Regions from separate parts of the Homo sapiens genome. Here all the other regions are linked to region 1. The links come from fine-mapping of genetic effects on gene expression. A gene starts in region 1. Each other region holds a variant in brackets. All regions are shown on one strand. Distances are from middle to middle. Region 1 holds the start of IFT52 (intraflagellar transport 52). Region 2 overlaps PTPRT (protein tyrosine phosphatase receptor type T). Region 3 holds the start of SGK2 (serum/glucocorticoid regulated kinase 2).

What was found. PIP is the estimated chance that this variant, and not a neighbour inherited with it, causes the effect.
Region 2: its variant is fine-mapped to the expression of IFT52 in nucleus accumbens (GTEx, PIP 0.94).
Region 3: its variant is fine-mapped to the expression of IFT52 in whole blood (TOPMed, PIP 0.95).

What each region holds. Positions count from the first base shown.
Region 1 is chr20:43,586,976-43,594,975 of GRCh38, reverse strand. IFT52 (intraflagellar transport 52) reads right to left here and starts at 4,039. Exons shown (of 14, transcript NM_016004.5): 1 at 3,922-4,039; 2 at 159-283. The coding sequence starts at 277. RefSeq lists an enhancer at 3,848-3,917.
Region 2 is chr20:42,850,557-42,858,832 of GRCh38, reverse strand. The region is part of intron 2 of PTPRT (protein tyrosine phosphatase receptor type T); the gene reads left to right. Among named protein-coding and RNA genes, the nearest start is that of PTPRT-AS1, 110 kb to the left of the region's middle. The variant C/T (reference allele first, on the strand shown) is at 3,173.
Region 3 is chr20:43,552,713-43,560,988 of GRCh38, reverse strand. SGK2 (serum/glucocorticoid regulated kinase 2) reads right to left here and starts at 1,962. Exons shown (of 13, transcript NM_170693.3): 1 at 1,830-1,962. The variant A/G (reference allele first, on the strand shown) is at 4,093.

The DNA.
Region 1 (8,000 bases):
CAGGTGTGAGCCACCACGCCAGACCTAATTCTGAATAATCTTTAAATTGAGCTTCTCCCACCTAAACAATCTATGTTACCTAAGAAAATAAAGACTTCTCAGCTTTATCAGCAGGACAATATCATTTAGAAGGGAAAACAATATACATGGTCAGTCACCTCTGAATCTTCCAATTACTCCGAAGTTTTTTCTGCATGGATTTGTAGCCATTGTTGGTGGTAAATATCTCCTTTTTGTAGGCATTGAAAAGAATGGTGCTCCGCAGCTCTTTCTCCATGGTTACCTTATGGAAGAAAGATGGGATCAGAAAATCAATAAACAATATTCCAAAGACCCTAAAAGTAATAAATAGTTGCCTTCTACTACTAATTTATCAAGAAAGGGTATACAACTGAAACCTATCTAGGAAACTCCTACAATTCTCAAAGGTTGAGAGTGAAATGCAAAAGCATAGCACAGAAACCTAAGACCAAAACCAACCCAGCCCTCCCCTACCCGCTTTTGCTTTCTGCCTCTTGCCCAGATCCTCCCAACAGCCTACACCTATGGCTCTGCCCTGCCATCACCCTGCTCTTGTGTCCCAAGACCATGTTTCCATCCTGATTCATTACTGCTAACTACTGTTAAGCGCAGGGTATAGTCTTCTAGATTCTATTTTTCTTTTTTTTGAGACGGAGTCTTGCTCTGTCTCCCAGGTTGGAGTGCAATGGTGTGATCTTGGCTCACTGCAACCTCCATCTCCCGGGTTCAAGCGATTCTCCTGCCTCAGCCTCCTGAGTTGCCAGGATTACAGGCACGTGTCACCATGCCCAGCTAATTTTTGTATTTTCAGTAGAGACGGGGTTTCACCATGTTGGTCAGGCTGGTCTCAAACTCCTGACCTCATGATCCACCTGCCTTGGCCTCCCAAAGTGCTGGGATTACAGGTGTGAGCCACTGCACCCAGCTCGAGATTCTTTTTATACATATATTAACTTACAGTTTTATTTTATGAAATAGGATCTTACCATATGCATTATTCTGAAACACCTGTTTCACCTAACCTTGTATATTTGACATCTTTCTTTGTCAGTACACATGGATCTACCATATTCTTTTAAACAGCTACACAGGGCTGGGTGCAGTGGCTCACGCCTGTAACTCCAGCACTTTGAGAGGCTGAGGTGGGAGGATCGCTTGAGCTCAGCAGTTCCAGACCAGCCTGGATAACATGATAAAACCACATCTCTACAAAAAAAATTAGCAGGGCATGGTGGCACATATCTGTAGTCCCAGCTATTCGGGAGGCTGAGGTGAAAGGATTGCTTGAGCCCAAGAGGTTAAGGCTGCAGTGAGCCACAATCACGCCACTCTGCACTCCAGCCTGGAGAACACAGCAAGACCCTGTCTTTAAACAACAACAACAACAAAAACAGCTACACAGTATTCATTTTATGGATCTACCATAATTTATTTAACCAGTCATCTACTGGCTGACATCTTTTATCAAATATTTTCTAAAACAATACTAAAAACATCAATGTTAAACAACATGTTTTTCTGCAATTTGCATATTTGTAGAGATTCTTATCTATTGAATGGCTGAGTAAATCATTTCCAAATTGCCCTCCAAAAAGTTATACTCATTTATATTTCCACTAACACCCTTCTGTTTCCACACAATCCTATTTCCAGTCTTTGTCATGTTTGCCAATAAAGGGCCAAAAAACCCCCCTCATTACTGTTTTAATTTCCACTTTGAAGTTAGTGAGATAGTTGTCTCTTGCTATAGATTTTTGCCACTTGTATTTCTTCTGATTTTCTTGTCCAGGTACTCTTGATCATTTTTCTCTTTAAATTTTTCTTTTTAAAAACTTCTTCTTATTATTATTATTTGAGATAAAAGTCCCACTCTGTGACCCAGGCTGGGAGTGCAGTGCTGCAATCACAACTCACTGTAGCCTTGACCTCCCAGGCTCAAGCAATCATCCCACTTCAACCTCATGGGTAGCTGGGACTACAGGCGCGCACCAGTGTCCAGCTAATTTTTAAATTTTTTGTAGAAGCAAGGTCTCGCTATGTTGCCCTTGAACTCCTGACCTCAAGTGATCCTCCTACCTCAACCTCCCAAAGTGCTGGTTTACTGGCATGAGCCACTGCACCCAGTCGGGTTTCATAATTTTCTAATTGATCATTAAACAAACATTTTCATAAGTTTATTTGGCTTCTGGTAGTTTTTTTGGTTTGGTTGAATTTTGCAGGCCATATAGATTTTAAATTTTATAGAGTTAAAAGTATGAATCTTTTCCTTCCTGGCTTCTGGATGACATGAAACACTTAGAAGAGTTTTTTGTCATTCTAAGATTATAAATAAATTCAACAATGCTTTACTTCAGTACTTCATGATGTAATTTTTTTTTTTTTTTGAGAGAGTCTGCTCTGTGGCCTAAGCTGGAGTGCAGTGGCACGATCTCGGCTCACCACAACCTCTGCCTCCCAGATTCAAGAGATTCTCGTGCCTCAGCCTCCCAAGCGGCTGGGACTACAGGCGCCCAAACACACCCGGCTAATTCGTGATGTAATTTTTTAACATTTAAATTTTAGTCCATTTGGAAATTATTGTGGTGCTCAAAATGGGCTTCATTCCTTTTTTTTTTCCTTCTTTTTCAAAGCATAGTCTTGCTCTGTCACCCAGGCTGGAGTGCAGTGGTGCAATCTCGGCTCGCTGCAACCTCCGCCTCCCAAGTTCAAGCAATTCTCCTGCCTCAGCCTCCCCAGTAGCTGGGATTACAGGCGCGCGCCATAGTAGAGACGGTGTTTCACCAGGTTGGCCAGGCTGGTCTGGAACTCCTGACCTCAAGTGATCCACCCGCTTTGGCCTCCCAAAGTGCTGGGATTACAGGTGTGAGCCACCTCGCTCGACTGGTTTAATTATTTTCTAAATTGCTAAAAAAGCTGCCTGACCCCAATTCATCTCTTCAATGCTGATTTGAAATACAGTACCACCTCGCCTATATAATAAATCCCTATATATAAATCGCTCTTATTCTGAGTTCTAATATATTTTATCTACCTGTAAGCTCCTGCTGAGTCCCAAACTTTTTAAATTAATTTATTTATTTTCAGAGACAGGGTTTCCTTTTGATACCCATGCTGGTCTCTGACTCCTGGGCTCAAGGGATCCTGCCGCCTCAGCCTACCAAGTAGCCAGGACTACGGGCCCACACTGCTGCACCCATCTTCTATGCTAGTTTAATTGCTATACCTTTATGTTATAATATCTGGTGGTTCTGGAGAGCTAATCTCCCTTATTAGCATTAATTTTAGAATTTTCCTGGCTACTTTCACATATTTATCCTTCTTTAAGCACTTTAACATCATTTTGTCCAGTTGAAAAACTGCCCCCTCCATGGTCCCACCACCGTGATACATCTATCTTTTTTTGTTCTGTTAGTTCAGCCCCTGGTGAGAGTAGCAGGTCTGCGTTCCTGTACTGTCAGACTTAGCCAGAAATGCATTTCCTTAATAATAGTATAAGGCCTTTAAAACTATAAAAATAACAAATATTTGGGTAACGCTGCCAAACCATTCTCTCGCTTTCTCTTCAATAACATTACCAGTCAAATCAGTATTTTCCCACATGAATACCGAGGGGTCGCAGCCACGACAGAAGAGAGATTAAGACTGTACGATTCCTCGTCCCATGCTCTTTCATAGTCAGCGGAACGACTAAACACCTGCACCACCCGAGGCCGTGGAGATGGGCGCCCAGCCGGGGCGCCAGGAACCCGGGCTACGTCCGCGCCCACAGTTTACTTCACCCCGGGGGACCCTGGATGTTCTATGACCGGCCCAGCGGCCTCGAAGAGTGCGGCGAGTCCCTCGCCAGCTCCCAGGCCGCACCAACGCCCCAGCCGGCCCACCACTGTTGGCGCCCTTTACCTGAGGCCCAGCGACCACCGCTCACCTGACGCCGCCCAGCATCCCGCGGCCAGGTATCCAAGGCCGCTTAGTAACCGGAGAGGCGCGTCGGTGCGCCGGGAGGCGTGGCCCAGGACGCAGCGCTAGCTCCGGCCGACGTGATGACGACAGCACGGAAGGCGCCTCTCCGTCGCAGGCGTCAGGGGTAGGCAGCCTGACTGATGTGGGGCTGTACCATTTGGTGCATGAGGGGCAAATCCAAACATAAGGAGAATTAACTTTTCACCAAAAATAAACCCATTTAATTTTGTTCTTTAGTATCAATTACGAGTAAAGACTAATAACAACGGTAGGACCCAAGTGCCCAAACTTCGCTCCACCCACAGGGAGGAGAATAGTGAAGGCTTCCAGCGCGGGGGGGTTGGAGAACGCCCCAGCTTCGATTCCCAAAGCGCAGGAGCAGAGTGGAGCCAGGCGAGGGCGGGGCCGGGCGGAAGGCTGTGCTGGACTATTAGGAACTACTTAACGGAAAAGGGTGCGCAGGTTTAGTGTTGAGAATGATAAACCGTATAATTCTGTTTTATTAACTCCGCATCTTTGCTTGCCATGGTACTAGGCTTGAGCGCCGGCGAGCATGGCGGGGAGTTAGAACTTGAATAGATTCTACAAAAATGTGAAAACTATGAACTGTATTAGGGAGTCTAACGACTAAGCTGGTCAAAAAGGCGCCCCTGTTGAGCAGAGATTTGAAGAGAGAGTGGTATTCATTAAGGCAAAGGCTGGGGAAGGGCGTTCCCGGCAGAAAGAACTGCTTGTGCAAAAGCACCACCAATACAGGTTGCCCTGCCATCGCCATTAAGATGGGAAACCAGAAGCCTGCAACTACCAACAGGCCACCCGACTACCCAGGAAAGCGCTCTGTGCCTGCCTTTAGAGGTGTGTGGATTTGTGAACAACGCTGCAGCAGCCTGGAAGACCCAAACTGAAGATTGCAGAGAGCTCTGACAGTTTTTATTTACATTTATGTTTGTCTTCGAATCTAGGATATTAAAACACATACAACTCGTGTTGCTTTCCACAATTTCTGTCACTGGAAATTTTAAAAGTGGAGACGGGCCGGGCGCAGCGGCTCTCTCCTGTAATCCCAGCACTTTGGGAGGCCGAGGCAGGTGGATCTCTTTAGCCCAGGAGTTTGAGGCCAGCCTAGGCAACATGGCGAAACCCGGTATCTACTAAAAATAGGAAAAATTACCTGGGCGTGGTGGCGCGCGCCTGTAGTCCCAGCTGCTTGGGAGACTGAGGTGGGAGGATTGATTGATTGATCCTAGGAGGTTGAGGCTGCAGTGAGCCGTCATGGTGCCGCCGCACTCTAGCCTAGGCAACACAGTGAGACCTTGTCTCAAAAAGAAAGTGGAGAACAGGGTGATTTGAGAATTCTCTTTGGTCAGATGAAGTGGCTTCTGCCTGTAATCCCAGCATTTTGGGAGGCCAAGGTGGGAGGACTGCTTGAGGCCAGGAGTCTGGGACCTGGGTAACAGTAACACCTTTTCTCTCCAATAATAATAGTAATAATAAATAAAAAAAGAAAATTAGCCAGGCATGGTGGCACACACCTGTAGTCTTAGCTACTTGGGAGGCTGAGGTGGGAAGATCGCTGGAACCCAGGAGTTCGGGCTGCAGTGAGCCATGATCGCTCCACTGCACCCCAGCCTGGGCAACAGAGTGAGACTCTGTCTCTTAAAAAAAAAAAGTTCTCTTCTTGGGGATGCTGTATTTTGGTGCAGAATTGGGTGAATACAGTTTGCAGTTAGGGTAATAATGGAAATGAAGTATTCTCACTGAAGAGAGAGTAGGCCGTCCCATTTGAAGGCTGGGACAAATCTTGGGATCTTTCTGCCTGATATGCAGTCAGTGTTTGCTACAGCACCTGCCCAGAGCATTTCTCCCACTGTTAGAGATTGCAGAAAGAGTAAGAGTTTTGGCCGGGTGCAGTGGCCCACGCCTGTAATCCCAGCACTTTGGGAGGCCAAGGCAGGTGGATCACTTGAGGTCAAGAGCTCGAGACCAGCCTGACCAACATGGTGAAACCCCGTCTCTATAAAAAATAAAATAAAAATAAAAATACAAAAAATTAGCCGGGTGTGGTGGCGGCCGCCTGTAATCCCAGCTGCTTGGGAGACTGAGGCAGGAGAATCACTCGAACCCAGGAGGCAGAGGTTGCAGTGAGCTGAGATTGCGCCATTGCACTCCAGCCTGGGCAACAAGAGCATAACTCCGTCCCCGCTTCCCCCCCCAAAAAAGCAAGAGTAAGACTTTTAGAATCAGTAGTTGTCACCAAGTTCAATTCCTCGCTGTGACTTGTACCAGCTGGGTGACCTTGGGCAGTTTTCATAATCTCTGAGCAAATGTATCCTATCTGTAAAGCGAAGTTAATAATTTCTTTCTTTCTTTCTTTTTTTGCCGAAACTGAGTCTTGCTCTGTTGCCCAGGCTGGAGTGCAATGGCATGATCTCCGCTCACTGCAACCTTCGCTTCCTGGGTTCAAGCAATTCTCCTGCCTCAGTCTCTCAGGTAGCTGGGATTACAGGCACCCGCCACCATGCCCGGCTAATTTTTGTATTCTTAGTAAAAACGGGGTTTCACCATTTTGGCTAGGCTGGTCTTGAACTCTTGACCTCGTGAATTGCCTGCCTTGGCCTCCCAGAGTGCTGGGATTACAGGCGTGAGCCACTGCGCCCAGTCTGAAGTTCATAATTTCTAAATGCTGGCTTATAGTGAGGATTGTAGATAATGCATATAAAACTTGGAATGTGCTCAATAAACATAGGTTGTAGCATGTTCCATTCAACAGCATAGTTTTTCATTTTTATTTTTTATCCTGATGAAAATAATTGTGCTTTTACAATCTCAGAACAGATAGAACCATTATATGTTTCACCGTCCACAGCTGATTGTGTGCTTCTGACACTACTATTACGTTTCTGATCATTATACTCCTGTTTTTTTGCTTTGGGAAGTTAGGGGGATTTTGACCTCTCCCTCATCTTGTCCCAAATTTGTCAATTATCTGGCACTATTAAGATGGAAATCAGTGTGTATCTTTCAGCGTTCTTAGCACATGTGAAAGCTTAACATGAACTCTTCCTGACCCAGTTTTGATCTCTAATAGCTCAGTGTCATTGGTGTTTTTTCTGTGGTCTCCCAGACTTCTTCCCCGTGATTCCTGGGGCAGGAGGCTGGGTGAACAAGACTTGAGGAAGGGAAAGAGTGGGATTGAATTAAGAGGAAAAGGCAATAAAATCACCAGCACACACTGATCCAAGAAAGTTCCTTCCCTTGTCTCCCAACCAAAAAAGCTAATAAGGCCACCCAGGAGTATGAACCACACATTTGTAAAAAAACAAACCACTTTTCGTATTTATTTATTTATTAATAAGACAGTCACACTCTGTCGCCCAGGCTGGAGTGCAGTGGCACGATCTTGGCTCACTGCAACCTCTGCCTCCCGGGTTCAAGTGATTCTCGTGTCTCAGCCTCCCGAGTAGCTGGGACTACAAGCATGCACCACCACACTCAGCTAAATTTTTGTATTTTTAGTAGGGACAGGGTTTCACCATACCGGCCGGGCTGGTCTACAAACTCCTGACCTCGGCCTCCCAAAGTGCTGGGATTACAGGTGTGAGCCAGCACGCCCAGCCGAAACGAACCACTTTTCCACTGAAGTAAGGAAGCACAATCCATCCCACAAGTGCAGGGTGTTCTGAATTTATGAGGTGTTACCGCTCACGTTCTGTCCGATCAGAATTATCTTTAGAAATGACTAATCTTGGCTGGGTGCGGTGGCTCACGCCTGTAATCCCAGCACTTTGGGAGGCCGAGGTGGGCGGATCATCTGAGGTCGGGAGTTGGAGACCAGCCTCACCAACATGGAGAAACCCTGTCTCTACTAAAAATACAAAATTAGCCAGGCCTGGTGGCGCATTCCTGTAATCCCAGCTACTCAGGAGGCTGAGGCAGGAGAGTTGCTTGAACCTGGGAGGCGAAGGTTGCGGTGAGTCGAGATCGTGCCACTGCACTCCAGCCTGGGCAACAAGAGCAAA
Region 2 (8,276 bases), 740 kb after region 1:
GGCCTGTCTAGCCCAGTTTTAGCAAGAACTCTGCTAGGTTAGCCTACTGAGGATCCCCCAACCCCTTGACATCTGTCAGTCCAGTTGGGCTTCTATAAAAAAGTACCATAAACTAATTCTTAGCAACAGAAATTTATTGCTCACAGTTGTAGAGGCTGGGAAGTTGAAGATCAAGGTGCTAGAAGATTCCATATCTCGTGAGATCTCTCTTCATTAAAAAATGACACCTTCTAGTTGTGTCCTCATGTGATGGAAGAGGCAAGGCAGCTCTCTGGGGTCCCTTTTATAAGGACACTAATCCCATTCCTTCATGACCTAATTCATCTCCCCAAAGTCCTCATCGCTTAATACCATCACCTTGGCGGTTAGCGTTTCAACATACGAGTTTTGGCCTCCACAAACATTCGGATGATAGCACTATCTGATCATCCTGGCCTGCCTTCGGTAAGAACCCTGGTAAGTTGTTTTAGCAAGAATCTCCCTACCCTTGTCTCCTCTTGGTAATTTTTCATCCACTCACTCTGTTCCTTGGCTCTAAATCCCCAGCTGTCTTTGTTATATTTGCCTAATTTCTCTCCTCCATTGCAATAATCTTGAATAATGTCTTCCTTACCATTTTAACAAGTGTCAGAGTAATTTTATTTTTAACAAGTGTTACCATGGCAGGTAAATCTCAGTCTGCCCCAAAGTAGCTTTGGGTCTAATAGGTAGACAGGTAGGCAGATCCATGATTGACTCTATGGAAGAGGAACACGTATTCATGAATTCAACAAACATGTACTGAGGGCCTGTAATATGCCAGGCACTGAGGATACAGCTTTGGACAAGATACTCCAGCTCCTTGCTCTCATGAATCTCACAGTCTGATGAGAGAGATAGATGATAAACATAAACAGAAACAGAAAAAGTAAAAAGGGGGCAGGTGTCATTCCTGGGATTGTAGAGGGAATAGGGGTCCCGCATAAACAGGAGACACCTTCTGCAGGAGAAGACATATGAGTTGAATCTCCAGTGAATTTAACTCTTGCTTGTGGGCTACAAGATTCGACAGGTTCAGAGCTCATCTAAGCATGTTTGTGAATAAGTACGATGTTGGATGACTCAGGAGCCAGCCTATGATTTGCCGATTGTGAGTAGGAAGACAGCTGAGGTTTCTAGAGGCAGCCCAGCTGAGAGGAGACACAGACAGGGAGATTATCCTAATAGGATTTCACAAAGACCACTTAGCAGTCGCTGAGCTCCAGGGAAAAACAGTTATGAGCTGAGGGTGGGGAAATAGTCAAGAATCTGGCAACTCCGCAGAAGCTCGGAGAGAAAAGCTGACAGCCGACAGACAGAACAAGATGATGCTTGCAAAAAGGTTAAAAGAATAGACAAGAGAGAAAAAATGTACGCTGAGAGATATGGATGGAAATGGAAGTGCATTAATATAACTTGGGGATATGGATTAAGATAATTCTAGCTCTAAGGAGCAGAGCTAGGACTTACTCATTACAGTACTTCACACTGTCAGGAAACTCTTGGAAACAGATGTGGGCAGTGGAAGGTCAGGATTTGGATGGAAAGAAAGAATGTGTGAATAGGCAGAAACAGGATAGCTAGTTCTAACCCCTACTCTTTAGAGAAAAAGAAAGTGAGGTTCAGATAAATAAAATGACTTTTTCAGAGTCATGCAACATAGTGAGTGCTAGAGCTAAGAGATTAGAACCTTGTACATTGCCGATGGGAATGCCAAATGGTGCAGCTAATGTGGAAAACAGTTGGCAATTTCTCAAAATTTAAACATCAAGTGACTATGTGACCCAACAATTCTGTTTGTTGGGCATGTAGCCCCAGAAATTGAAGGCATGTACTCAGATTTGATTCATGGTAGGTTTTCTGGCTAGTCCAGTGCCCCTTTTTACTGCACCCCAGCTGTTGCTTCCATCTTCCATTTTCTCTCCCTTTTTTCTCCTCCTTTTTCCCTCCCAACATCCTATCTTCATCCCTCTTCTTTCCTCTTTATACATGTAGGGTCAGGTTGGGGTCTAAGCTATAGCTTTGCCACTTAATAAATACGTGAACTTGGTTTTTATTGTCCTGTCATTGACGATGACTAGATGAGGGTCCTCCAGCCCTAATAGTATATGCATTTTTACATACTGTGCCGTCACATGTTCAGGAACTGCAGCGGATCTAGTATTGATGAGAGGACAGTACCTGGGAGGTTGCCCAGAAGACAACCCTGGGGGAACCTGGGGGTGTTGTCGAGAAGCTGATACACTCCCGGTCTTGAACAACTGTCATGTTTTCTCACCCTTTAATTGCTTGTTTCGTAGAGCTTAAATTCTCTTTAATTTTCCTGGGATTACAAAGCAGTGATCTATTTATGTTTCCTGGAGCATCTCTTCTTCCAGGGTGAGTTTTAAAAAAAAATCTTTGCGTGTGAAACCTACTGTGGGGGACACACAATCTTCCTTTAAGTCTTGTACTTTTCCCCCTCTACTTGACCACTATATCAGTGGGGGCAGTTACCTGATGGTGTTATTTGATCCAAATTGGTAATGCTGAATTTGCCTTTGCTATTTTCCCAATTTACTTGGTTACAGTTTGACTGCTCTCTTATGGGAGAGGAAATTGCTGAGGACTTGCAAAAAGCCTCTGGGGGCTTTGTCTCTAATCTGTCTCTAAATTTATTGAAATTCTGACACTAGATTTAGGTCTATTGAATTGTCAGTTGATCCTCTTCCTGGGGTGGGTGGTCCCCTAAAGCTTCAGTTTGCTCACCTGTTTCAAAATGAGTCAGCTGCTTTAATGAGAGGTCCTTCTGTTTCATGGACTTTTGTCGTTTGTTTTTCTAAACCCATTCATTTTCTTGTCTTTGCCCATTTGAGTCCTCATATGAGATAACTGGTTTCTGCCTGATAATTCCCAGAATGGCTCTGGGAAGGGATTTAGGGAAGGAGTCAATCCAAAATGGGAAAAACGAGCTCCAAGTGGAATATTCACACCTTTCCAATTTGTTCTCTTCAAATTAGGAGCTATATCATTCAGCTTTTCTGTCCATTACACATTTTTTTTTTCCTTGCCAACAGTACTTTTCCATCTTGAAAGGGAGGATGGGCTGGGTTCGATGGCTCATGCCTGTAATACCAGCACTTTGGGAGGCTGAGGTGGTCAGATTGCTTGAGGT[C/T]AAGAGTTCTAGACAAGCCTGGCCAACATGGCGAAACCATGTCTCTACTAAAAATACAAAAATCAGCTGGGTGTGGTGGCGCACTCCTGTGATCCCAGCTACTTGGGAGGCTGAGGCATGAGAATCCCTTGAACCCAGGAGGTGGAGGTTGCAGTGAGCCGAGATTGTACCACAGCACTCCAGCCTGGGTGGAGTGAGACTCTGTCTCCAAAAAAAAAAAAAAAAAAAAAAGCATGAACATAGATTACTCTTCTTTCATTTTGGCCCAGGTGGCACTTAAAACCTATAGCATGAGGTTGGGGCAGTTTCTGAGTTTCAGAATTAATAATATTTTTGTTGTTCATTTTAATTCATTTTGTTCATTTCAGTCAACTTTGAAGATGGAGGTTCTGTGAAATGGTGTGCAAACCACCATATTTTCTGGAATACCTGGCATTCTTTCCACTATACCATGCTGTGTGATTATAAATACACTCTTTCATAGCCAGTATGACATGCTCTTATTGGAAAAGGTTTCCAATGACTGTATTCACTGAAATGGCCTATTTATATATCAAGTGTGTGATTGGATATGTGCTTCCCTAAGACTAAAACAACAACAAACAAAAGGCCCAGATCCTGGGTTACCCAACGATGCTGCCAGGTCTCCCCTAGTTCCCTGCTCCCAAATGTTCATGTAAAGTTGCCACAGGAGGTCTCAGTAGTGAGCGCCTTCAAACTGGGCAATGGGATTAGGTTTTTAGAAGATGATTTCCTTGTTTTCATTTCGAGATCTTAATTTTATTGAAGATGCTTCTGCTGTTGGTGGTGCTGGTATAACTGATCTAATTTAATTTAATTTGCTTCTTTGCAAAGAAGGCAATCCCTTGCCCAGCTGCTGCTCTGGGCAGAGAGGAAGCAAGCAGGCTTGGAGATAAGCCATGAACTTTATCAGACCTCTCCAAGCTTTATGCTAATGAGCAATGCTTAGAGATTTCAGAATTTTTTCCCCCAGTGATTGCTTTAGCTACTGTACTGTTTCCTAGGCAGTAAGACATCATCATGAGTCTCTATAGGTGAGGGAGATGTGATCATCTGACTGGTCTGTTACTCTGCTTCAAGGTACCATGCCTGTGGTGGGTGCAAGGCACATGTCAGGTGGTGTTAGGAAGAGTTTCCCCCACCCATTCTGTCACAGTGTGCCTAGGGAAGCTTCCTGTGAGAATTCTGAGTGATAGCAGGTGTGGTAAGTTAAACAGTCCTTGATTAAACTCTGGTTGTACCTCCCTAGTTTCTTTCCTTTGTCAAGGTGTTCAAACTTGCTATGTCTTGGCCTCCTTAAACCATGCGTGAATAGGATGTGTGCTTCAAGGATAGAGTTCCTTATTCCTGTCTCTATTTTCAGTACCTAGTAAGGTGCCTGCCAGACAGTAGGCTTGGTAAGTATTTGCCAAATGAACGAATGAATGAACAAATAAAAGGAAACAAATGGGTACGTATGGAAAGGAAGATGGAATGTCACCATTACATCCTACTCTCCAGACAGAAACACTCTGGGTATAAGGAGATCCAGAGTCATGTTGTGACGAGGTATTGTGAGCCGTAATGGTACTGCAGGTCTCCCCAGTTCTACTCCAATGATTTGATTTGGTGGGTTGGAAAGGATTTGTTGACACAGATCTAGACATATATGTGATTTGATAATGGGTGGTACAGAATTAGCCCATTTTCCATCTGGTCCTGCCCAGATTTGCTCAGCCACGGGGTTAGTCTATTCAGATCCAGCTCAACTTTGCTGTATTTTAGGAGCCCATCTCTCAAGATAGTAGTGATTAAAGTCAGCCTGCTGGCGCAATCCTGGCATGCAGTCATTCTGAGGAAAACGTATACAAGGTTGTGATGGTTAATTCTGAGTGTTAAATTGATTGGTCTAAGGGATGCTCAGATATCTGGTAAAACATTAATTTTGGGTGTGCCTGTGAGGGTGTTTCTAGATGAGATTAGCATTTGAATCAGAAGACTTAGTAAAGAAGTCTACCAATGTGGGCAAGCTTAATCCAATCGTTCGAGCACCAGAATAGAACAAAAGGGCAGAGGAGTTCATTTTTTCTCTCTTTTCTTGAGCTAGGACTCTTCTCCTATGCATGGGCATTGGAGCTTCTGGTTGTTGGGCTATCAGACTTCCAGACTTACACCTTCTCATCCTGGGTTCTCAGGACTTTGGCCTCAGACTGAGAGTTATACCATCAGCCATCACCTCTTCTAGTTCTCAGGCTTTAGGACTTGAACTAAATTATACCACTGGCTTTCCTGATTCTCCAGCTTGCAGACAGCATACTGGGGGACTTCCTGGCCTCCATAATTGCATGAGCCAATTTCCATAAGTCTCCTCTTATATATCTTTATATATTCTGTCGGTTCTATTTCTCTGGAGAACCTTAACTAATACAAAGTTCTTCATATGAGGCTTCTGCTTAGTTTTCTTGATTAAGATGGTGATTCCTGAATGAGACCAAAATACTCAGGGCCAAGCCACATGAGCTAAAAGGCACTGACAATGCTGAGTTAATGTAGATATATCAGACCAAAGGGTGCCTGAGATTTAGCTTCTTTGCTCTTATCCTGAAATGCAGCAAAGCTGTTGCTTCATCATCTAGCTTCTGACTCTCAGCATCCCCATCTCCTGATGCCTTCACTTGAACATCTTTGCTGGGCAGCTCCACCACCATCTTTGACTCCTCAAGTATGCTAGCAACCTGGGTGGAACCTGCATTTGTCATATTCTCTTGGCCACTCTGAGTGAACTTGTGTTCACTCTCTAGGGAGGTCTAGGTTTCCCAGTGGGTTTCTGCAGCCCCACCTACCTCTCAGTCTGTTCTCTTCTGCACCCAAGCACTGTAAAATTAGTACAAGCCTCACTAACTAGAAGGCATGTTGATAGGTCAGATGAGAGGGTTTGTGAAATAGAGGAGGTATCTAGGCTGGGCTTGGTGGGGAACAGAATCCATGAATGAAGGCTGTATCTCTAGGATGAGCCAGTGGAGAAAAATCCTCAAACTGATGGAAAAGAAAAAATACTCTGGCTCTGAAAATCAAAGGACATAGCCCTCTGAACAAGTGTGATTAGTATTCTAAAAAAATATATGAAGGAGGCATCAAAGAAGAACCCATTGGCATTAGCAAGAGGTTTTAGGGACCAGATACGAAATAAATTTCTAAAAAAAAATTAGCAGGTTTTTTCTATGTGCAGTTTTTAAATTGTAATATATAGAGCAAAGAAAAACCCAATCATAACAGGACAGAATATCTTTTAAAGCTTGGGATGAAGATAAAAAAAATGCAGGAACAACATGAAAACTTTAACACAGAGGCACATAAAAGAAGACTTGAATACTTGGAAAAATATCATGTTTCTGAATGGAAACGTGTATTCATATAAATATGTCAATTCTCCCCCAAAGTGATTACATATTTATGTTTTTAAAACTTGACAAAAATGATTGTAAAGTTTGGATAGAAGATGAAATGCATAAGAATGGCAAAAGGGACATTTTGTCCCTTAATAGAAGGGAGATTTGCACAGCAAAAAGTTACAGAGAGTTATAAAATAACTTAATACTATAAGCAATTTAGTGGCTAGTGAAATAAAATGTAATTGAAACAGAATACAAAATAAGATAATGAAAATGATTTGTGTCTATGTAAATACTTACTATGTGATAATGGTAGACTTAAATCGTTTTGGGAAATAATAGATTATATAATTAATGCTGTTAGGAAAATCAGCTTTTTAGAGGGAAAGGCAGATCATTATCTCAGTCCGTACATAAGCATAGATTGCAAACTATGGTGTACAGGCCAAATCTGGTTTGCTGCTTGTTTTGTAAATTAAATGTATTGAAACATAGCCACACCCATTCATTTACGTATTGCTTGCGGCTGCTGTTGCACCACCATGGCAGAACTGAGTAGTTGCAAAAGAGACGATATGGTTGCAAAGCCAAAAGTATTTACTATCTAGCTCTTTACGAAAAATATTTGCTGACCCCTGCTTTGACACATGGAGAGCAGGAACTTGAGCTGAAGCAATAGCAAATAAACAGGAAACATCTTATTCTCTATGGTTGGGGTGACATATTTATTTTTGTTTCAATAGGGACATTTTTGAGAGTAAAAGGAATACCCCAGGTAGGCAGGGAGGTATTATAATTATAGATGCCTATAATGGATCAAGAATTGGATTGGAAAGGGAGAAATGCAAGACAGTGATGATTAGAGTTGAGTAAGATTAGAGTTAATAAAGTTAAGAATAATAGAAATCAGCGTTGTTAAAAGCACAGTCTTTTAACAGCAGAAAGGAGCCTTGTGAGTCTTCATGGATCTTTAGATACTTTTGATAGAAAGTAGTAACTCAGTTATTCTCAGTGTCACACCAGGCAGAATGCTATTTATTATGCAACATAAAAGCAGAGGCAAAAACTCAAGTACTTCTTGAGCTGTGCAGGGAACAGAATAGATGTAAGACAAGAACAAAATGTTCAACTCTAATGAGAGGATAAGAACATTAGAAGACTAGTATCTTGGATGTTTGAAACAGTGGAGAATGGCCAACAGGAAGGAACAGCTGTAATTAAGTGCAGATCTAAAGAAGTGGCAGAAAAACTGTGCCTTGCAAGTTTGACTTAGCAACGAGCCAGCTACCAAGAGCCCTAATGAGGACCAAAGATGGAAGATGTCTGTGGGGAGTGAGACCCGGGTAATCAGCTTGTTTTTTCCCATCTGTGAGTTTTCCATCTGATGAGAAGAAAGGGCGTCAGGAGGTAGACTGGTCCAAGGGCTGCTCTTTGAAGACACCTGATCTCAAATCACTACCATGGTCAGGAGGGGATGCTCCAAAGTGAGCTCCAGGAAAATAGCTTTGCAGATAAGCCCATGGGCCTCTAAGCACCTTCCCTGTTGCTTGGAGAAAAAGGACCAGGCCTGGCCATGGGTTAAACCAGCAGCTGGCCTCACAAAGGAATGTGTAAGTGCCACTGCCTTTGGGGTTGACACTGCAGTGCAGTGGGTGTATAGCAACTGAACAAAAAGGACTGACTGCCTACCACTGGGGGATGCCAAAAGACTC
Region 3 (8,276 bases), 34 kb after region 1:
ACATTTTGTCTACTTTATATTTTACTTTGTAGCACTGATGCCTTATCACGTATTTATTAGTTTTTATTTTCTATCTCCAACTAGAACATCAGCTCCAGGAGGGCAAATACTTCCTGTTCAACTATTGAATCCTCAGCACTGAGCACAGGGCCTGGAATATAGTAGATGCCCAGTACAATTTGACTAATGAATCAATAAATGAATTGATAAATGTTGGTACATATATAAAGTGGAAAATTACACAACCAAAAACTATATAAAACCTATATAAACCAAAACAGGAACATACATGTGATACAATATCAAGCAAAAAACCAAGTTTCAAAATAGTAGGTGTTGTAGGGGTACCAATTTTGTAAAAGAAAAACAAAAGACATGTCTGCACGTACACATTTGTGAGCACAGCTGCCAAAAAAAGACTGCAGGGTCATGACCCAAGGTCACAGCGGGTTCTTAGGTTAGGTTATTTTAACTTTTTTTTTTTTTTTTTGAGATGGAGTCTCGCTCTGTCGCCCAGGCTGGAGTGCAGTGGCGCAATCTCTGCTCACTGCAACCTCCGCCTCCTGGGTTCAAGCAATTCTCCTGTCTCAGCCTCCCAAATAGCTGGGATTACGGGCATGTGTCACGACGCTCGGCTAATTTTTGTATTTTTAGTCGAGACGAGGTTCCACCATGTTGGCTAGGCTGGTCTCAAACTCCTGACCTCAGGTGATCCGCCTGCCTCGGCCTCCCAAAGTGTTAGGATTACGGGTGTGAGCCACTGTACCCGGCCGGTTATTTTAACTTTTATCTTTGTACTATTGTGTAAAGCTTCTCAAGATATTGCTGTTGAGTTAATATTCAAGTACTGAGTTCCTGGTGGGAACCTGGCATGCCCATGGCCCATCACACCCTCCCCCATCACCTTGACTGTGACCCCCATGCCTAAGCAGCCCTCAGTTCCTAAGGCTTTCTTCTCTCTCGCACCACGGTGTTCTAATTTTCTGGCCAGAAGCTGGACATCAATATATTCTCCTAACTCTTCAGACTCCGCAAACTCCCACTCAAGCCCCTCCATGAGTCCTCAAGCCTGTCCCTTTCCTAACTTGCCACAGCCCAGACTTGCCTCCCTCTGTCCCACTGTTACATGGACCTGCTTACAGCTCCCTGGCCCTGCCAAATGGGGTGTGGGGGTGGGACAGTGTCACACAGTTCTCTCTCCTTGGAACATTCCCCAACAAACCTGGTCTTTCCAGCTCACCTTTTCACCTGTTCTCATTGCCTTTCCTGGAAGCCAGATGACCCTCCGATCCCATGCACCCTCTCCTGCTGCTGTCCCTGTCTTCACTGTAACTTGTTCATTTACACGCCTGCCCAGTTCAAGTGCCAACTTGATCTTATTTTGTTCCCACAACCCCACGGGTTAGGAACTATCATCGTCCCTGTTTCAAGGAGGAGAAAACTGAGGCAAGGACAGGGAAGTGACATGATCAAGACAGTTAATAAATGACATAACCAGGATTTGAACCCAGGCCATCTGACTGCAAAGCCCACGGCCTGGAATTTCAGGAAGACAATAGAAAGCTAGAAAAGGAAAAAATGAAGTCAGTGGGAAGGAAGTGAGGATGTAAGTTGGTTAGTTAAGGAGGAAGAAAATTAGGCAGCTGAGAAAGCAGATAGTTGGGAGGGAAGGAAGGAAAGGAAGGAGGGAGAAGGGAAAGAAGTCGCCAAGGAAGAAAGGAAGGAAAGAAAGTAAACAGGTACTAGGAAAGATGTTAGCTAGGTAACTAGTCAATCTGGAGACCAATAGGCGAGCAGGCAGGTATCCTGCTCACAGGTGAGCCTCTCACCTGAAAACTCCAGGTTCCTGCTCAGGTCCTGGGGAGCAGCCCCATGCACGGCTCTGCCCTCTTCTCTCTCTTCATGGTCCTTCTGACTGGAGGCACAATCCTGACTTGTCAAGCAACCTTCCCAGTCAGGAATGACCTGTCACCCACTCGCTCCTGGCTCCCAAACCGGCTCAAGTTCAACCTCCCAGCCCTGCCTGCTGGAAGCTGGCTTCGGGGCCTTCCAGTTACTAATTAACCACTGGACCTGAATTACCAAGCTGGCTGCACACACTGGCTCCTGGATGGGCCCTGCCTGGGGGACTCTCTGAATTTTTTAAAGCACAACTTGTTATGTGACCATGGGCAACTGACTTCAGCTCCCTGAGCCTCATGTGAATTGGTGACGGATGGTGTGTCCTGCTGGAGGGACGGTTTCTGAAGTCCCTTTCAACACTGGAACTGCCGCACTCTCTCAAGGTCCAGCTTAAGTGCTGACTCCTACACAGCCTTCCCTGATTCCCTCCGCTGAGTCATCTTCCCTTTCGCTTGGAACCTAGTGAACCAGCAACTGAAAGGTTGGTCTCACACAACACCCTCCTCCACCCCTTCCCTAATGGGGGCCACCAGCCCCTATGTTCAGTCATTTCATGGAAACTTCCAGGACTGGGCAGCTCATTTCCCCCTGAGCCAGCCTCTGGCAATTTCTTGTGTTAAGCCGAAGACTGCCACCCACAGCCTACCCGACCAAGCACTGCCCTGGCACCGTTCTGGGAGAATCACAGCTGAGTTGAAACCTATGCCCCACTCTGCCCTTCAGAGATTTGAGGCTCAGGAACCAGAGATGAGTTCACCCTGGAGAACAGGGAAGGCTTTCTCGGGGGTTGACCCAAAGCTTCCCAGGCCCTGGGTTCTTTTTTTTTTTTCTTTGAGACAGAGTCTCGCTCTGTCACCCAGGCTGGAGTGCAGTGGCGTGATCTCAGCTCACTGCAAGCTCCGCCTCCCAGGTTCACGCCATTCTCCGGCCTCAACCTCCCGAGTAGCTGGGACTACAGGCGCCCACCACCACGCCCAGCTAATTTTTGTATTTTTAGTAGAGATGGGGTTTCACTGCATTAGCCAGGACGGTATCGATCTCCTGACCTTGTGATCTGCCCGCCTCGGCCTCCCAAAGTGCTGGGATTACAGGCGTGAGCCACCGCGCCTGGCCGGCCCTGGGTTCTAACTCAGGGCACAGGCAGGGCCTGGACCCCTGGACAGGTAAGGAAAGCTCTGCCCAGTGACCCCTCCTGAGCAGGCTGACTTTCACACTGCTTCCTCCATTGCCTTTCCATTAAAATGTCAACAACTTTCTGGTAATTCTGGTGCCTTAAACACCGGCTGCTCTGCTGTGCTCCGGAGGAGCCCTGCATGGCCACACACCCCACCTCCACCAACACACATAGCAGCATGTGTCTGGCCCTGGTCCAGATAGGGGAGGTAGCTGGCCCAAGTGCACAGAGCAAATCAGGGCAGCGCACAAGGTCCTGCCCTTTCCAGAGCTCCTGCTGCTGCTGCTGCTGTGCCACCAAGCTCCCTCTCCTCTGCTCTTCCAGAGCTGCTTAAAAAACCCCCAAACACGCCACATACTGGTATTGGTTGCATAAAGTGTATCAAATAATTCCAACTTACAGAAGAATGTCAAATAAAAAGTAAAAGCTTTCCCTCCAGCCCATCTTCAATCTCATTTCCAGAGGCAGCTGCTGTTAACTAAAGGGTGACAATCCGGCTGGGCGCCATGGCTAATGCCTGTAATCCCAGCACTTTGGGAGGCTGAGGTGGGTGGATCACGAGGTCAGGAGATCGAGACCATCCTGGCTAACATGGTGAAACCCCATCTCTACTAAAAATACAAAAAGTTAGCCAGGCGTGGTGGCGAGTGCCTGTAGTCCCAGCTACTCGGGAGGCTGAGGCAGGAGAATGGCATGAACCTGGGAGATGCAGCTTTCAGTGAGCCAAGATCATGCCACTGCACTCCAGCCTGGGCAGCAGAGCAAGACTCCATCTCAAAAAAAAAAAAAAAAGGGTGACAATCCTTCCAGATTTTTGTCTATGTCTTAATCTATATGTATATTAATCTTAATCTATATGTATTAATCTATATAACTGCATCCATTTTTTTTCCAGAAAATGGGCCATCAGTAATTCACTTTTTTTCATATATACATCTTTTAAGCAGCTGCACCACACTTCATAGTGTGGAGTTTTCACAACCCCTATTCCCTATTTACTGTTCCTTCTGATGGAC[A/G]TTTTGACTGTTAGCAGTTTCACAATATTTCCAACAAGGCTGCAGCAAACATCTCTGCTTTAATATCCTGTGGCCTTCCGCTAGTATTTCTGACAGATGAACTCCTGTTAAGTGTGAGTGCTGGGTTAATTATGAACTCTCTACCAAATGACTGTAACAAGTTGTGCCAACCAACGTGGCTAGCAGCAGTGCTGAACTTGCCCTTCCCCCCAGTGATACTGCAGGAAATAGCCAAGGTCACTCGTGCAGATATGTGTAGATAGGCCACTGCAGATATGCGTCTCCTTCCCATCTTCCTCTCTTCCTTCTTTCCCCTCCCACCCTCCCTGGCTGGACTTTGTTGTTTGGGTATGAAGGTAAAAGTCATGTTCTCAGGCATAAGGGAAAAGCAAGAGACTTAACCAATGGAAATCTACCTCCAGAAATATTCCCTTCACTTTGACATTCCTCAGCCCACTTTTCTGTCCTTAGTCTGGCTCCAGCCCTATTCCCACCCCCAGCCCCACCTGCAGATTCACCCATAGGCAAAGGGAATAACAGACACAGGGCCACCAGAGAAAAATCTATTACCCACATGGGCTAACAGACTCTTGGGCAACAGAGCTCATACATAGCCCAGATATGGGCCCCAGTTTGCCTTCTGGAAACATTTTTAGAAAGTGATAATTGTACAAAGTGTAAAATCAAATAATGAAAAAGATCAGTTCCTTGCCCCATTCCTCATCTTTTTAAGCTGCTTTCTTTGGTATTTACCTCCATGTATCTTAATAGCCTTATACTGTTATTCTTCCATTTTTCAGTTTAAAACATTTTCAAGTGGCTTCTTTCCTACTATGGAACATGAATGCTTAGATTATGCCCCTCCAAACACACATTTCAGCTTTTCCTGAATTTATAGTTGCTTCATTTGGTTTTAGAAATTGAACATATTCAATATATATAATTATTAGAGAATTATATATAATTATGTGTATATAACTCTCTGATAAAGCTAAAATATCCTCTTGATACATTAATATACCAGTTTCAGTTTGTTTTCTTCCCCCCATTTTTCTTAGAGCCGTTCATCCTCCTACTCTCACCTAGACAGCTGTCCAGAGGTGAACCTGGCCCTTCCTTTCCCATCACTCTGGAAACCCGTCCCCACCTCTGCCTTTTTTTTTTTCATTTGAAGTAAGAGTCTCTCTGTCGCCCAGGCTGGAGTGCACAATCTCGGCTCACTGCAGCCTCCCACTCCCAGGTTCAAGCAATTCTTCTGCCTCAGCCTCCCAAGTAGCTAGGATTACGGCACGCACCACCACACTCAGCTACTTTTTTGTATTTTTAGTAGAGACGGGTTTTGCAATGTTGGCCAGGCTGGTCTCAAACTCCTGGCCTCAAGAGATCCACCTGCCTCAGCCTCCCAAAGTGCTGGGATTACAGGCGTGAGCCACCGGTGACTGGCCTGCAAATCCCCTTTGTCTCTTTCCTTGGTGTGTCTTGCTTCCTGGATCCTATGTCTTCCTCTTTTAAAGGGAAATTTATTGTGGTAAATATAAAATTTGCCATTGTAACCATTTTTTGAGTGTGCAATTCAGTGTCATTAAGTATATTCATGATGTTGTATAAACATCATCATTATCTATTTAATTAATAAAAAATCTGTTTTTATCACCCCAAAGAGAAACTCTGTAATTATTAAGCAATGACTCCACATTTCCCCTTCCTCACAGTCCCTGGTAACCTCTAATCTGCTTTCCATCTCTATGAATTTGCCTATTTTGGATATTTCATATGTGTGGAATATTTGTTCTTTCGTGTCTGTTTTTCATTTTTTTGAGACGGAGTCTTGCACTGTCGCTTAGGCTGGAGTGCAGTGGTGCGATCTCGGCTCACTGCACCCTCCCCCTCCCGGGTTCAAGTGATTTTCCTGCCTCAGCCTCCTAAGTAGCTGGGATTACAGGCGCCTGCCACCACTCCCAACTAATTTTTTGTATTTTTAGTAGAGACAGGGTTTCACTATGTTGGCCAGGCTGGTCTCAAACTCCTGACCTCATGATCCGCCCACCTCGGCCTCCCAAAGTGCTGGGATTACAGGCATGAGCCACCGCGCCCGGCCTCATTTATTTCACTTAGCATGTTTTCAAGGTTCATCCAGTTGTAGCAAGTATCAGAACTTTATTCTTTTTTGACTGAATTAAGATTCCACTGAATGGATAGACCACATTTTGTTTTCTGTTGATGATGACATGGGTTGTTTGCATCTTTCGGCTGCTGTGAATAATGCTGCAATGAGCATAGGCATTCAAGTATGTTTTCAAATCTTTTGGGTATATACCAGGAGTGGAATTGCTGAATCATGTGATAGTTCTATGCTTAGCTTTTGAAGGAACTGCCAAACTCTTTTTTTCAGCCTACATCACGCTTTGAATGCCAAACTCTCTTCCATAGCAGCTGCACCATTTTATGTCTCCACTAGCAATGTACAGGGGTTCCAATTTCTCCACAGCCTCACCGTTTTACTTTCCTTTTTAAAAAAATTATAACCATCATAATGGGTAGAAAGTGATATCTCATTGTGGCTTTAATTTGCATTTCCCTAATGTCTAATGATGTTGAGCAACTCTTCATGGGCTCACTGGCCATTTGTATGTATTTTTTTGGAGAAATATCTATTTAAGTTGTTTGCCCATCTTTTAACTGGGCTTTTTGTTGCTTAGTTTTAGGAGTTCTTTATATATTCCACATGTTAAACCCTTGTAAAATTTGCAAATGTTTTCTTCCATCCTGTAGGTGCTTTTCACTTTTTTGATAATGTCCTTTGATGCACAAAAGTCTTTAAATTTTTATGAAATTCAATTTTTTTTTTTTTTGAGACAGAGTCTTGCACCGCTGCCCAGGCTGGAATGCAGTGGCGAGATCTCGGCTCACTGCAACCTCCGCCTCCCGGGTTCAAGCGATTCTCCTGCCTCAGCCTCCCGAGTAGCTGGGACTACAGGCGTGTGCCACCACGCCCAGCTAATTTCTGTATTTTTAGTACAGACGGGGTTTCACAATGTTGGCCAGGATGGTCTCGATCTCTTGACTTATGATCTGCCCACCTCGGCCTCCCAAAGTGCTGGGATTACAAGCATGAGCCACCGTGCCCAGCCATGAAGTTCAATTTATCTATTTTCTCTTTTGTTGCTTATGCTTTTGGTGCCATAGCTAAGAATTCATTGCCAATTCCAAGGTCATGAAGATATACCTTTATGTTTTCTTCTTAGGGTTTTATAGTTTTAGTTCTTATATTTAGGTCATCAATCCATTTTGAGTTAATTCTTGAATATGGGGTGAGGTAGGTATCCAATTTCATTCTTTTACAAGTATAAATCCAGTTACCCCAGACCCATTTGTTGAAGAAACTGTACTTTCCCCATTTAATGGACTTGGCATTCTTACTGAAAATCAATTGGTTAGGCCGGGCGTGGTGGCTCACGCCTGTAATCCCAGCACTTTGGGAGGCCAAGGCGGGTGGGTCACGAGGTCAGGAGATCGAGACCATCCTGGCTAACACGGTGAAACCTCGCCTCTATTAAAAATACAAAAAATTAGCCGGGCATGGTGGCGGGCACCTGTAGTCCCAGCTACTCAAGAGGCTGAGGCAGGAGAATGGCGTGAACCCGGGAGGCGGAGCTTGCAGTGAGCCAAGATCGCGCCACTGCACTCCAGCCTGGGCAACAGGGCGAGACTCTGTCTCAAAAAAAAAAAAAAAAAAATTTCAATTGGTTATGGACATATGGACTTGTTTTTAGACTCTGAATTCCATCCTATTGGTCTATTTGTCCTTATGCCAGTAACACACTGTTTTGATTATTGTGGCTTTGCATTCCAGCCTGGGCAACGAGAGCAAAACTCTGTAAAAAAAAAAAAGAAAAAGAAAAAGAAAAGAAAGAAAGAAAGAAATCGGTTTGTTCTTCAACTTTGTTATACTTTATTAAGATTGTTTGGGCTATCTGAGGCCTCATGCAATTCCATAGGAATTTAAGGATCTGTCTTTCCATTTCTGCAAGAAAAAAATAATCAGCTGAGATTTTGATAGGGATTGCATTGAATATGTAAATATCTTTGGGTAATATTGACATCTTAACAATATTAAGTCTTCCTAGCCATGAACACAGATCTCTTTCCATTTAGTTAGGTGTTCTTGAATTTCTTTCAGCAAT